2 separate regions of the Homo sapiens genome follow, and region 1 is linked to region 2. Evidence: fine-mapped expression QTL. A gene starts in region 2. The other region holds a variant in brackets. All regions are shown on one strand. Distances are from middle to middle.

Region 1 (2,910 bases), 4.4 kb after region 2:
AGGAGGAGGCTTCCTCCAAGCTGAGGCAATGCCAAACACAATGGAGGCTGTGGTGAAAAGCAATTAGGAGAAGACTAGTAGATTCATTAAAGATATAAGCTAAGCCATAGGTTGGCTAGTTTTCCAGCAAGAACCAGGAAAAGAAGCAGATAAAAAGATCTCTCCTAGAGTAAGAACAAATCTGAAACACTGACCTTAAAAACTATCCCTCAGAGGCCGGGTGTGGTGGCTCATGCCTGTAATCCTAGCACTTTGGGAGGACGAGGTGGGCAGATCATCTGAGGTCAGGAGTTTGAGACTAGCTGGGCCAACATAGTAAAATCCCGTCTCTACCAAAAATACAAAAATTAGCCAGGCATGGTGGCTTATGCCTGTAATCCCAGCTACTCGGGAGGCTGAAGCAGGAGAATTCACTGGAACCCAAGAGGCAGAAGCTATAGTGAGCCGAGATCGCGCCACTGCACTCCAGCCTGGATGACAGAGCAAGACTCCGTCTCAAAGAAAACACAAACAACAACAAAAAGCTATCCCTCAGAGAGGTTACACCCTATCAGTCTTTGTGTGCCACCATCCCCCTCTTTCTCGGTGCTACCTAGAGTGGTGGCAGCCATCTCTTACTCGGCATCATGGCCACCCTCAGACCCCTTGTGAAACTCAAGATCATAAAAAAGAGGACCAAGAAGTTCATCCAGCACCAGTCAGACGTATGTCAAAATGAAGCATAACAGGTGGAAACCCAGAGGTATTGACAACAGGGTTTGTAGAAGGTGCAAGGGCCAGATCTTAATGCCCAACATTGGTTATGGGAGCAACAAAAACACAAAGCACCTGGGGCCTAGTGGCTTACAGAAGTTCCTGGTCTACAATGTCAGGGAGATGGAAGTGCTGCTGAAGTGCAACAGAGTTAAGGACAGCAGAGGCCACACCACGCTCAAGAGCTGGCACTGCCTATCCTTGGAGTGAGCTCTGTGCTGGAACGTAGCTTGTGCTGGTGCCAGGAGGGCACAGGAAGGAGTGTGAAGGTTGCTTGTTTGTTTGTGAGAGGAGACATCTAAGGAAACAGAATTGACTTTATCATCATCACTTCTTATCAGCTGTCAAAGATAACTGTGGGCCTCATGCGGTATGGGACCAAGTGACTGCTTTTCACCTATAATCTGGAAACACC[C/T]GTCAGGCCAGGAGAACCGGAAATGAGCCATGAAGAGAACGTTTGCCTGATGCACAGCCAGGATCGAGTCATTCTAAGAAGCTCTAATTTATTCTGCTTGAGAAATCCCCTGAGAAACTTCTCTTGGGAAGCCACAGTTGCCTCTGTTCCTGGCCCCACCTTTTCTCATCAGTGACTTTATCATCTCACCAAATGGAGGCACTCAGAAGGCAGACGAGTCAGACGGCTCTTACCCAGTGAAGGCCTTGCTGTCACTCTAAAATGGACTATGATGGGTGGGTGGGTGGGTGGGTGGGGTGAAGCTCTTGGCACAGCCCCTAATCCTCTCAAGGATGGATTTCTCTACAGGGCACGGGGAGCCAGTGAGCTGGAGGATGGGGGTGAAGCCACAGAAGGGGCAGCTTCAGCTGCTTCTGCCAGCCTCAGGATGACCACTTTTCTTGCTGGCCTGGCTAATTTTATGCACCCGCCTCTCACACCAGAGAAGTTGAGGTTGTTGGTTGGGGGAAAGAAGGGAGAAAAAAAAAACTGGTCCCTGAAATGGCTCTCACAGTCTGTATCTGGAAAGTACCAATGGCATTTTCTGCCAAAATGCTACCCAGCAGGTTTTAAATATCACACAAGCATGTCTCCACATCAGTGATACGTCTGAGTCTGCAGTGCTGGTCAGAGGCAGTTCAGCCCAACAGCAGGCACTGGGGCTGTCATGTTAACACTCATATCCCTGGTGCCTCCCACGGGGCTGGCACAGAGCTGGTAGTCAATAAAGATTTTCTAAATGATTTAATGAATGAAACAACAACAACAAAAAGCTATTCCTTAGAGAAGCCCAAATTTAATTGAATCAGTCAATAGAGCAACCTAGGGCATTGTTGAAAACAACAGGGAAATCAGCCAGCAATTTGTGGAGTTTAACAACATATGGCTGTGGTCAGGGAAAAAGACAATCAAAGAGAGCCCTGTCAAATCTGCTGCTAACCCAGGGTAACTGTGCATATGCCCAAGGCTGTGCCTCTGAGGAGCAACATCAGAGGCTTTAACTTGTGGGGACTGGAGGGTGGACTTCACAGCCAGTCACTAAACAAATAAACAATCAAGTATTACTAACAAGCCCCAGAGGAGAAGAGAACCCATCTCTACAGTTGCTGTATTATTTACAATGTCCCATTTCCAACAAAAAATTATGACATGTAAAGAAACAGGAAAATCTGACCCATATATGAGTGGAAAAGCAGGAAACACAAACTGAGAGCAACCAGCTATCAAATTTGACAAAGACTTCAAAGTAGTTATTATAAATATATTCAAATAACTAAAGGAAATCATGATTATAGTAAAGTAAACCATGATTAAAGTAGGGTAAAGGAAGGTGTGATGACAATGTTGAACTAAATAGAGACTATTGATATAGACTAAAGAGATGGAAATTCTTAAAAAGAACCAAATGGAAATCCTGGAGTTGAAAAGTAATAACTGGAATGACATTTTCACTAGATGGGCTCAAAAGATTTATTTGAACTGGCAAAAGAAAGAATTACCAAACTTGAAGATGGATCAATAGAGATTATGCAATTTGAAGAAAAGAGAAAAAGAAAGAATGAAGAAAAATGAACAGAATCTCAGGAAAATGTGGAACACCATTAAATGCATCAACATATGCATAATGAGAGTCCCAGAAGGAGAAAAGAAAAAGAAAAAAGCAGAAAAATTATTCAAAGACATAATAGCTGAAAACTTCCTAA
Region 2 (2,910 bases):
TTCCTTTCAATTCAGTTCTAGGAAGTCGGCTTGAAACGGCCTTAGGTTCCCCGCCTCCAAACCCTATTCTCCTGCCTCACCAGCACCTCAGAAGGTGACCTTCACTGGAAACAGGTTTGCTGAAGATGTGATTAGTTAAAATAAGATGTCCTGCTGCACTAGGGTGTGCCCTTAATCCAGTGTGACTGTGTCCTTAGGAGAGAGACACACAGAGACACATGAGGACAGAAGCAAGCCTGAGGTGCCACGGATGCCACAGACGTCACAGACGCCATGGACTGTCAGCCACCAGCAGCTGGAGGAGCAGGAAGGACCCTCCCTAGGCCTCCAGATGGGGCACGGCCCTGCCGATTCCTGGATCTCAGACTTCCGGCCTCCAGAACTGTGAGAGAATCGATGTCTGTTGCTCAAGCCCCAGCGTGGTGCTTTCTTACAGCAGCCCCAGGACACTGGGACACTGGGACACTCACACACACAACGTCCATAACCATTTTACTTTTCAGAGACTTGAACAAGCTAACCTGCAAGAAGTTCCAAGAAGGAGGAGGCAATCACCCCCTTGTCTCCATTTATTTTACCACAAACCTTTTTCCTCAAAAAAACTCAGTGTGCCATGAAACGTACTTTGAGAAGTGGGGGTCTTTGGCATGCATCTGTGGTACCCCAGGAAGGTGACATAGAAGGAGGGGCCAGGCAGGGACCACAGAGTCTGGGTGCCCCTCCAGAGAGGGTGTCTCACCAAGCCACAGGCCAACACCAGGCCCCGCAGAGACCCCTGCTCGTGCTCAGTGAATGAGTGGGCACCCCGACTAACAGGAATTTCATCCTATTGACAGACAACCGACCCTCTGCCTCTGGACCAGTGTAGGGGTTCACCCCAAAGGGAGGCCCCACCAGACATTTGCTCGCCTCCCTGGCCTCAACTCCCAGGCCTCCCCAGCCCCTTGCCCACCCCAGGCTTCCGTGACACCAAGCTGCCACATGCCTTGCCTTCTCTGCTCTGGGCCTTCTCACACATTGTTCCTGCTGTCTAGAATGACCCCCTACTCTCACTCCAATTCCACCTTTTGTCTGCTGACTGGATCGCCACTCATTCATGAAGGCCAAGTTCAGGGACTATGGACGCCCCTCTCAGGCCACACCTCCCCACCCTCTGCCAGCACCTTCCACAGTGAGGGCCCTGACAGCTCCTCCACCCTGGTGTCCAGGCAGCTTCTCGCAGTGAAGAGAAGATGAACTTCAACATGGCGGTAGCAGTTCACGCTGACCTTCTCCCTTGGCCTTGGGCAACTTGCTTTGCCTCTTCAAATTTCTGTTTTCTCATCGATAAACATTATCTATGAGCCAGATGTTTGTGAAAATAAAATAGCGTATTACTGATAGGTGCTGGACATCTAGTCGGTGTAAATAAAATTGCGTTGTTATACTGTTGGTAACATAGGATTTGTCCGGGGGCAGCTGGACCGGGAGCTCCTTGAGGACAGAGGCGGTGGGTGTGCCGCTCCTCTCTGCAGCCGAGCCCCCAGTCCTCCCAGAGTGAATGTTTGCTGACTGCACGAGGGAGCCATCCCCTTGGAGGCTCAGCAGGGTGTGGGCTGTGTTGTCAGCCCTTCCTCCTCCTGTTCACAGCCTTCCCTTAATGACTCAGGAGCACTCCCGGCAGCATCCCCTCTTACAACACACTGCCTTGCTCCAGGGTTGGCGATGGGATCGTTCCCCCCAGTTCCTAGAGCCTAACAGCACCTAGAGCACTGTGATTCTGCGTCTGATTCTGAGTCGTGGGGACATGAGCATCAGGGGTCTCCCCCAAGCACTCCATTTAACATTCACCCCCACGCTGGCACCATCAGCCGAGCAGATAGCATTTCCTGTCTCAGAACGTTCTTGTCATTTGTTTAAGCAAGTTGAAAACTGCTGCACCAGATCCCACTGAAAGGAAGTACTCAGAAGTCAGGTGGGTTGGGAAGTCGGGGAAGAAGGTCCCTCCCTTTACATGTCGTAATTTTTTCTGTTTTCTAAATTTATTTATACTGGATGTTCTAACATGCTGATAAAAGCCATCTACAAAAACATGCATTCATTAAACAGATATTGGGTACCTTCTATTCACCAAGCTCTGTAATGGGGTAATGGAGTCAAAATTAAAATTAAAAATTCCTACCCTTAATAAATATATTGATTAAGGTACACATTAAATGGCTAGAACAAAAAACGCCCCTACAGACAATGACCCAAACACTATAAGAGTTTGTTTTTCTCTTTTGTAACAGTCCCAAGGTGACTTCCACTCCACAAGGGCATTCCAGGAATCAGCTTCCTTCTATCTTTTTTTTCTTGCTGAGGTATAACTTACATGCAATAGGCACATAAATCTTAAAAGAATAGCTCAATCAATTTTTATGTGTGTATACACCTGTGTAACCACCACCCAAGTCAAAGTACAGAACTTTTCCAGCACTCAGGCTAGGCATGGTGAGTCACGTCTATAATCCCAGCACCTTGGGAGACCCAGGTAAGAGAATCACTTGAGGTCAGGAATTCAAGAATGGCCCGGGAAATCTAGTGAGACCCTGTCCCTATAAAACATAGAAAAAATTAGCTGGGCATGGTGGCTTTCACCTATAGTCCCAGCTACTGTGGAGGCTGAGGCAGGAGAATCACTTGAGCCCACGATGTTGAGGCTGCAGTGAGCTATGATTGTGCTACTGCACTCCAGTCTAGGCTACAGAAGAAGACCTTGTCTCAAAAAAAAAAAAAAAGAAAAGAAAAGAAAAGAAAAAGAATGCTTCCAACATTCAAGTTCCTCCTGTCTTATTGCTTTGTAATACCCTATGGTGTTATCTTCATTCCACAACAAAAACTCACTCATTTTATCACCTCTACATTTCAACCCACAGGAAAGAGAGAGAA

Evidence for each region. PIP is the estimated chance that this variant, and not a neighbour inherited with it, causes the effect. A credible set is the group of variants that fine-mapping cannot tell apart.
Region 1: its variant is the best candidate, but not a certain one, in a credible set for the expression of LINC01954 in atrial appendage (GTEx, PIP 0.63).

The regions. Positions count from the first base shown.
Region 1 is chr2:10,872,286-10,875,195 of GRCh38, reverse strand. No RefSeq gene overlaps it. Among named protein-coding and RNA genes, the nearest start is that of LINC01954, 4.5 kb to the left of the region's middle. RefSeq lists an enhancer at 1,080-1,339. The variant C/T (reference allele first, on the strand shown) is at 1,169.
Region 2 is chr2:10,876,698-10,879,607 of GRCh38, reverse strand. It overlaps LINC01954 (long intergenic non-protein coding RNA 1954), which reads right to left and starts at 1,341. Exons shown (of 2, transcript NR_110575.1): 1 at 1,164-1,341.